2 separate regions of the Homo sapiens genome follow, and region 2 is linked to region 1. The links come from fine-mapping of genetic effects on gene expression. A gene starts in region 1. The other region holds a variant in brackets. All regions are shown on one strand. Distances are between the middles of the regions. Region 1 holds the start of SNAPC4 (small nuclear RNA activating complex polypeptide 4). Region 2 holds the start of DNLZ (DNL-type zinc finger).

Region 1 (4,367 bases):
CCTTCCGCCGATGCTCAGGGCTCCCTCTGGCTCCCGGGTCACTCTTGTGGCCCCAGTGGGTGGTCCCTGCAGTCATGGCCTGAGTGCGCAGGGGCCACCGCGTGGCTGCTGCTGTCCTCCTCCGGGACCCACGGGGACCAAGGTCACACGTTCCGTGCTGTGAAGCTGTCCAGATGTGCCTCTTTGGCTGGGGGTTCTGGTGGACGTTTCAAGTGGCATTTTGTACAATGCAGGTTAGAATTCAGGAATTTCAAGTATGTGCCCGGGTCTGTCAGGTCCCAGTTGCCTTTCTGACGGCCCCCCTCAGAGGGACGGCGATGAGCACTAAATGCTTTTTTGACTATTTTCCTATAGATTTTTTTTAAAACTTTTTTTTCCTCCTGTTCCAATTGATAGCTTTCTTATTTAATAAATTCTGTAGTTCACCGCACTGTCTCTTCTCTGCTGACTTAGCCAGTCCTTGGAGAACGCCGTGGGCTTCCACACCTCACTTGCTCTTGCCCTAACTGGTGCCTTGTGCTGGCAGATTCTCTCCAGGTCCTCAGCCCTTGGGGTTAGGGGCAGACTCAGACCACTGCTGCCTGGGCCTGACCACTGGGACCCACACGTGATGGACGTGTGAGTCACGCAGCTGCACGTTTCAGAGCTGGACAGACTGGATTCTAGCATTGGATCATCTTTTCGGATCATGTGGTTGAATTTTTCAAACAAGGCGTCTGAATTGCTAGACCCCTAGCCTTAGCTACAGGTGAAGGCCAGAGCTTTCCAGCAGTCACTGTGGAGCGGTCCTGCTGCGTAGCCCTATGCGCCTCCTGCTCCTGCTGGTTGGTGAAAGCAGGCTCTGGATTCTGTTGGCAGAGCTGACTTGAGACAGGGTGCTGTGGTTGGGAAGTGCCGGAATGAGGTTCTGAGTGTATAGGCAGCTCTGGGAGCCCTGTAGCAGCAGGATGGGGGCATCTGGGGAGGATGCCTCAGGCCACAGGCCTTCCCTGAGGCCCTTTGGGAGAGACAGCATTTGATGGGGTGGGGGTCACAAAGGCCAGATCGCCAGGCGGGTCCCATCCACCAGATGCGTGTGAAGTGGGGTGGTCCCCTGGCCCTCATGCCAGCAGCTCATGGAGCAGGTGGGGCCCAGGGAAGCGCGGTGGGGATGGGCATGTGGGTTTTGCGCACCCCTCTCTTTTGATGTCTGTGTTTGAAGCGTTTGATAGTAAGAAGTTTAAAAATACAATTTGTGGCGCGGTATTTAGTGCCTGCCTTCTGCCTCCAGATTTCAAGCCCGATGCAGGGACTGAAACGAGGCGCTCGAGGAGCCCCCAGCCGCCTGGTTCCATCCCCTCCATCTGTTTCTTGCCAATCCCTAGCTCCCAGTTTGGCCTCACCTGGGCCTAGCCCTTTGCCACCAAAAGCCCACCTCCTAGGTAGGCAGGGCAAACCCTCTTTATAGTTCTCCAGCTGATGCCCCTAGCTCACCCCAGGCTGGAGTGGAGGCCCCCTCAACTGGCTGGGCCCAGGATGTCTTTGCAGCACCGATACTTAGAAGCTCTCAGGAGCCAGGAACTGTAGGCCCCTGCCCAGCTCCCGGCCGAGTTAGCCCTGGCACGTTCCTGAAGGAATGAATGCCCACTTAGGGGAGGGCCCCGGGGCAGCTCTCCAGGCCAGGAGACCCCAGAGGGTGTGCACAGGTGACCAGGGAAGCGAGTTTGTGTGGTGCGGGCCCCCACCCTCTGGCCTCAGTCTCCTGCACGTGCCTGGAGATCGGCCTGGCCTCGGCGATCCTGAGCATGCAGGGCAGGCTGGGGAAAAAGCCTTTCACGTAGACTTTCTCATCCGTTGCTTAACCAAACCCCAACATGTCCGTTAACAGAGGATGAAACAAGCACAGAGAGGTCCAGCGATGGCCGAAGGTCACAGCCAGTAAGGGCCGGTCTTCCGGATCGTGACCAGGTGGCCGGGTGCCTGTCCCTGTCTGTCCCCTGCCTTGAGGTCCCGCGTCCACCCGCGCCCCTCCAGAGCGCGCGGAGGCGGCCCCCAGGGCGGCCGCGCGAGGGCAGCATCGAGCCGTTCGCCTCTCTAGTCCCGGCAGGCCGCAGCGGCCGTCCCGGCGTGCCCCGCGCCTCAGGAGGCGGGACTTCCGGCGCGCGGCGCTCTTGTTCTGCAGCCGCCGGAAGCGTCGAGTCTGCAGTCGCCCGGGCGACGGCGGGGTCCGCGCGGCCAGGTAAGGTGTGCGCCCAGCAGGTGAGGCGCGGGTGGCGTCGGCAGCTTCAGGGCTCTCCCCGTGGAGGGGGCGCTGTCCCGAGGAGCGGATAGCCGAGGCCCGGGACGGGGGCGGGGCAGCGCCCAAAGTCGGGGAAACTGAGGCCCGGCGTGGCCCCCGTCCGGCCGAGCCTGGGCGCGCGGGGATTCTGGCCCTGGGAGCCCCTCGGCTGGGAGCGGGCTGCGGGCTCCGAGGAGGCTCCGGCGGGGCGGCCCCGGCTGCAGGGCGCCCGCGTGCGTCTCGGGGACTGCGCCGGCGATTCCGCGGTGGCCGAGCCTCGGAGGGGGTTTCCCCAGTTCACGCAGCGAGCAGGAGGCGGAACTGGGCCTGGGCCGGGTCTGTCTCCCAAGCCAGTGCCTAAACGCCCATCGTCCTGGCGCATCCTGGGGTTCCCTGGGCCCAGCCGAGTCTGGGTGGCGTCCCCGCAGCTGGGGCTGGAGGGACCGCCTGCTGCGCTCCGTCTTGGTGGGCAGCCCTCATGACCAGCCCTTGGGAGAGGGGTGCGGGGAGAGGGACAGCCCCTGATGTCAGTGGCTCAGCACGTGTGACTTTGACCTCCTTCCTGCTGATCATTGCTCACCTGAGCGACACGGGGAGGGGGAGGCAGCAGCCTCGTGTGAGGCTTCCAGAGGAAAGCGTCTCCGCCGGCCCGGAGGCGCTGAACCAGCCTGCGGTCGCTGCCAGCTCTGCCTCTGGCCGGCTGTTAACTGAGTTTACAGGTTCACAAGCATTTCGGGCATAAACAAGGGGCTTTGTGAAGGAGTGAGGGGACCTGGGCTGCTGATGCGGCTAACGGTGCTCGCGGGTGGATGCTTTGGTTTTGTTCCAGTTGGGCAGGGCCCCAGTCAGCCTCCAGCAGGGAGAGCCACGCCAAGGACGGGGGAGGGCGTTTCTCTTTGTTGTTGGGTGTTTTGGGCTCCCGGGTCTGTGCTAGTGATTCCTTTAGATTTTCTCTGCTAATGTTTCATTCTCCCACTCTCTCTCTAGCGTCCTTCTCCCTTCAGACTTCCTGGACCACAGTTCCTAAGAAAAAAGCTTGACAAACATTTGTTAGTGTCAGGCACTGCCACGTTCCAGGCGTTGTTCTGGATGTACAGAGAACAGCCAGCCTTCCCTTTGGGAGCTTCCTTCCCAACCATGCTGTTAGTGCCTGCCACCTGGGCAGTCTCAGTGTGTGTCTCTGTGAACGTTTCTCAAATGCCCTCTGTGGTCCGGCTCTGTGTCATGGGAGAGCAGGATGGCCAAAGTGGGTCACGGGCTGTGTCCTTGCCCTGTAGTGACTTTGCCACTGCACCCCACACCTTCTACGCTGGGTGGCCAGTTTCCATGTGGCTTGGTGTGGGAGCAGAGACGGGACAGTGGGGCCTGTCCTTGTTCATCCACTCCCTGCCTGTGCTGGTTGCAGCCTCAGAGCAGGCGGGAGATGTTCTTGGGGCTTAGGCTCCTGGCAGAGCACATAGCAGGAGTTTGTGGGGTCTGAGGTTCCTGTCCCAGGGTTCCCCGATTCTGTGCCTGGCCTATTAATCTTTCTCTGGGGAGCCCAGTGCCCACTGCCGAGCAGGCTCCTGCCATCCCCCATGGGCGGGTGTGTCTGAAGGAGAATGGGATCCCGGCACGGTCTTGGTTTCTAACATCTCGGGGTGTGTTTTGGAGGCAGGCGGGAGTCATGGATGTAGATGCTGAAAGAGAGAAGATAACACAGGAGATCAAGGAGCTGGAAAGGATTTTGGATCCCGGCTCCTCGGGCTCCCACGTGGAGATCTCAGAATCAAGTCTCGAGTCAGATTCTGAAGCAGGTAAGCCCCTTGTACCTAGCCTCCTGGGGTCCTGGTAAGAACAGCTGGTCTGCCTCCTGGGTTCCTCTCAGGCACATTAGGGAGTGATGGTAGCCGGGTGTGGTTTCTCAGGCCTGTAAACCCAGGGACTCCTGAGGCTGAGGTGAGAGCATTGTTTGATCCCAGGAGTTCATGTCCAGCCTGGACAACGCAGCAAGACCCTGTCTCTAAAAATAATAATAATAATAATAAACGATGGCTGGTGCTGCTTGGACCAGACCCAATTTTTTGCCAACACTGGTGTCTTTCTGTACTCCAGCCAGAGAGCTTCTGAC
Region 2 (4,367 bases), 36 kb after region 1:
AGAGGCGAGCAGGACCCAGGAGTCCGGCTCAGGCACTGCCCCCATCCCCCTGGGTGGCTGTGGCAGGAGCAGGGGCAGGTGTGAAGGTTGGAGGGTGAGCAGGGGAGGGGCTGGCTCTAAGGGGCTGCCAATGGCCAGGACAGCCCTGGCCTGGCCCTCACCGCAGTGGGGCTGAGACTGGACGTGCGTGGTTTCTGCCCAAGGGTCCTGATCCCTGGTCTGCCCAGGTCCTGGCGGTTTCTGAGGGGGTCCAGCCGCCTGAAGGTTCTCTCCCAATTGCTGCAGTACCCCTGCCCCCACTTCAGGAGGACCCAGACAGCCACTGTAGCTGTCCCCAACTCTCTCCCCAGGGCCGCCATGCCCACAGATGCTTTGGAGTGATGGGGGACGGTGCTGCTCAGGCCCAGGGTTTAAGTTCCCCCGAGGTCTGGGAGGCGTTCCTCCCTGGCAGGCAGCCAGCTCGGGGGAGGGATGGTCACTGGCGGGAGCGTTGGGCCTGGGCTGGCATCTGGCGGCCTCCTGGAGCAATGAACAGGCAAGCGAGGCCATAAGGCCTCAGTCTCATCTACAGAAAGCAGAGTCTACACTGGACCCATGTGGGGATCCCACCAGGCCTTGGAAGACAGCCCCACTGCAATGCCGGGGAGGGGTGGGGCAGCCGTGCTATACGTGGCCCAGCAGATGGGCAGGTCCCACAGGCACGACTCTCCTTTCCAGGCTGCCTTGCCGGCGGGGGGAGCCCGAAACAGCCCTTTGCAGCTCTGCACCAGGAGCAGGTTTTGCGGAACCCCCATGTAAGGCTTCCCCGGGGTGGGGTCCTCCCAGCCGTGGGCCTCAGGGTGACCGATCACAGGGAGAGTGGCTCCCTGCCCTGGGCACCCCCTGCGGTGGCCCCGACGACAGCTGAGGAGTGACCACAAGGTCTCTGCCCACAGTGCTCGGGGTGCGGTGTCTGGGCTGCGAAGTGGATCCCCCTTTCTTGGGCACTGCAGCAGCTTGGGGGGCTTTTTGGACGTGGATGTGCCTGGTCCTGGTTTTCCGAGGGCCTTTACAGTGGATGAGGAGGTGAACACAGGAGTCCTGAGAGCAAGCACCACCTCGGGCTTTGTTGTAGAAACAATGGCCCGGACCCCAGGCTGGAGCCGTGGCTTGGCCTCCTGGGTGTGTCTTGGCATCTGAAATGCAGGCTACCCACACCGGCTCACCTCCAGGGGTACAGGCAGGTCCCACAGGGAGAGCTTGGCGCTGAGCTGAGGCTGTCTGGGCTCCTCGCCTCCCAACCAGTCTGCAGTTACAGGGGCCAGTGGGGGGCGGGTGAGAAGGACGGGTTCCCTCAGGGGAGCCGGCCGGAGCCCGAGCCTTCCCCCTTCTCCAGGACGCAGGCCTGAGCAGCGGGGAGCCGCCCGAGAAGGAGCGGCGGCGCCTCAAAGAGAGTTTTGAGAACTACCGCAGGTAGGCGGGCGGCCCCCAGGCTTCTCCAAAACGGGCTGGGGAGCGGCAGCCGGGTCGCGCCTGAGACACCTGTCTTCACAGGAAGCGCGCCCTCAGGAAGATGCAGAAAGGATGGCGGCAGGGGGAGGAGGACCGGGAGAACACCACGGGCAGCGACAACACCGACACTGAGGGCTCCTAGCCGCAGCAGCGCAGGCCCCGACCAGGGCACACCCACCGGCCCGGCCTCCTGCCACCCGGGGGTGCCGACGCCCTGGGGCGCAGACTTCCCCGAGCCGTCGCTGACTTGGCCTGGAACGAGGAATCTGGTGCCCTGAAAGGCCCAGCCGGACTGCCGGGCATTGGGGCCGTTTGTTAAGCGGCACTCATTTTGCGGAGGCCATGCGGGTGCTCACCACCCCCATGCACACGCCATCTGTGTAACTTCAGGATCTGTTCTGTTTCACCATGTAACACACAATACATGCATGCATTGTATTAGTGTTAGAAAACACAGCTGCGTAAATAAACAGCACGGGTGACCCGCATTCCCGCTCGGACACTCGCGCGCAGCCCCGCGGCCGTCCCTCCTCGCTGCGGCCCGCGGTGTCCTCGGGGTGCGAGCTGCACGTGGACGCAGGGCCCCCTCAGGCCGCCAGGGGGCGGCATAGCGCAGCGCGCCCCCGACCCGGAAGACGGAAGCCCAAGAACGCCGCTTCCGCCCGGCGCCCACTTCCAAGATGGCGGCGGGGCGGGGCCGGGGCAGGGCGGACGGAGCCGGCGAGCGGGATGCTGCGGACTGCGCTGCGCGGCGCGCCGAGGTTGCTGAGTCGCGTGCAGCCCCGGGCGCCCTGCCTGAGGCGGCTGTGGGGCCGCGGGGCCCGTCCAGAGGTCGCGGGGAGGCGGCGGGCCTGGGCCTGGGGCTGGCGGCGCTCAAGCTCCGAGCAGGGGCCGGGGCCCGCGGCGGCTCTGGGGCGCGTGGAGGCGGCGCACTACCAGCTCGTCTACACCTGCAAGGTAGGCGCGCGGCGGGACGGAACCGGGGACAGACC[C/T]GTATCTGACGCTACACGGCCTGCGGGGAGAAGCGGCCCGCCGGGGATCCGGGAGGCGGCGTGGTCAAGTCACAGGAAGGAGTGGAGCCACCCCTTGGGGCTTCTGGGAGGGAGCGGAGGCGGACCATGAGGAGGGGTGGAGCCGTCCCTGGGGCGGGGCCTTCCCGGGAGAGGGCGAGGTTGGGGGTGGGTGGAGCTATCCCTCGGGGGCGGGGCCTTCTCTGGAGAGGGTGAGGTGGCTGGAGCTACCCCTAGAGGGGCGGGTCTTCCCGGGAGGGGCGTGGCGGCCCTCACAGCCTCACCAGCTACCCTGTCCCAGCCAGGTCTGCGGGACTAGGTCCTCCAAGCGCATCTCCAAGCTGGCCTATCACCAAGGCGTGGTCATTGTGACCTGCCCCGGCTGCCAGAACCACCATATCATCGCTGACAACCTGGGCTGGTTCTCGGACCTGAATGGGAAGAGGTGAGGCCTGTACCCCAGGGCTGGGCCAGAAGGCCACCCAGAAGTACCCTGGCCTCCCTGGGGGAACCTTGCCCTAGTGTTGAGGTTTATAGATCTCACCTGGGAAATCCAGCCACCTTATCAATACAAGACACACAGTTAAATGAGAATTTCCTATAAAGCCCAGATAGCTTTTGAGTTTAAGTATGCCCCAAGTAGGGGGTGCGTTTTTATTTGTTAAATTTTGCCAGCCCTGTGGCCCTGCCTCCCTGCCTCTGCCTGCCCTCTGCCATCACTGGCAGCCTTGTCCCTCTCTAGCGTGGAACTTTTTTGCCCTCTGCCATCTTGGGGTGGCTGGCCCACAGCAAGGCTTGGGGTGTGGACCAGGAGGTGTGGCCTGGGCCCTGGCTGCTGGGAGAGCAGTGGAGGTGGTGCCGGGAGCCTGGTCCGGGCCTTGCCTGGCCGGGAGGTCCTGGGCAGGACAGTAACAGCGACAGCAGGTCTGAGACCAGCATGCCAGGTGCTTGGTGGTACCTGGCCCTTGGAGCTGGGACTGTCCTCCCATCAGACCCGGGGCTGCAGATTCTTCCCTCTGGCACATAGGGGGCAGGAGCAGGAGACTGGGTTCCTGAGGCGGCGCATACCGGCAGAGACACAGGGCTGGTGAGGGCACACAGGCCAGCGTCTGAAGTGCCCGTGTGGCCTGATGCCACAGGAGTGCTGGGCCTGGTGCTTGCAGCTCTGGCCTGGCCATGGGGCGCCCTGAGGGGACTGAAGTGCAGGGCGGCTGGGGGGCCCTGAAGAGCCATGTTGCCTCCCTGCCCCCCAGAAATATCGAAGAGATCCTGACGGCCAGAGGCGAGCAGGTGCACCGTGTGGCGGGCGAGGGGGCCCTGGAACTGGTTCTGGAGGCTGCAGGGGCCCCCACATCCACTGCAGCTCCGGAAGCGGGTGAGGATGAGGGTCCCCCCAGCCCTGGCAAGACGGAGCCGAGCTGACTCCTGCGCTCCCCGGCACTGTGGGACTTCGGCCTTCCAGAAGGAGGTTTTGGCCCTGGGCCTCTCTGGACGTGGCCTGTTTTCTATCAATAAACAGACATTACTTCCAGATGCTGGGGCCTGTGGCCCTCGTGGCCTTTCTTTTTCTGGAGTTAGAACGATTGCTCTGAATCCCTGGTGCTGCTGGGTGGGACATAGGAGCCGCAGGACCTCTCGCCTCACCACAGTTCCTTCTACACAGAGTCACCCAGCTCTTGCCCACAGAGGCCACAGTCGCGTGGAAAGGGGGCTGGATGTGGCGTCAGAGCCCTTCCTGGCTGTCGCTGCGTGACTTTGAGCAGGTCACCACCCCTGTGAGCCTCAGCCTTCCTCTGCAAGGCCCTTGCCGCCCCCCTGGCCAGCTCTGGCGGCCTCCCTTCCGTGAGCCAGTGCAGACCTGAGCCC

The links. PIP is the estimated chance that this variant, and not a neighbour inherited with it, causes the effect.
Region 2: its variant is fine-mapped to the expression of SNAPC4 in whole blood (TOPMed, PIP above 0.99).

Annotation. Positions count from the first base shown.
Region 1 is chr9:136,397,985-136,402,351 of GRCh38, reverse strand. SNAPC4 (small nuclear RNA activating complex polypeptide 4) reads left to right here and starts at 2,182. Exons shown (of 24, transcript NM_003086.4): 1 at 2,182-2,218; 2 at 3,915-4,053. The coding sequence starts at 3,924. It overlaps ENTR1 (endosome associated trafficking regulator 1), which reads left to right. Exons shown (of 10, transcript NM_001039707.2): 10 at 1-430. RefSeq lists silencers at 1,735-1,784, 1,935-2,144, 2,215-2,344, 2,415-2,524 and enhancers at 1,033-1,969, 3,699-4,367.
Region 2 is chr9:136,361,568-136,365,934 of GRCh38, reverse strand. DNLZ (DNL-type zinc finger) reads left to right here and starts at 2,191. Exons shown (of 3, transcript NM_001080849.3): 1 at 2,191-2,448; 2 at 2,807-2,946; 3 at 3,755-4,367. The coding sequence starts at 2,221. The coding sequence ends at 3,923. It overlaps CARD9 (caspase recruitment domain family member 9), which reads left to right. Exons shown (of 13, transcript NM_052813.5): 11 at 718-794; 12 at 1,376-1,452; 13 at 1,534-1,979. The coding sequence ends at 1,633. LOC124902309 (a long non-coding RNA gene) reads right to left here and starts at 2,566. Exons shown (of 2, transcript XR_007061863.1): 1 at 2,483-2,566. RefSeq lists enhancers at 1-723, 724-1,614 and silencers at 1,826-1,925, 1,956-2,455, 2,556-2,835. The variant C/T (reference allele first, on the strand shown) is at 2,484.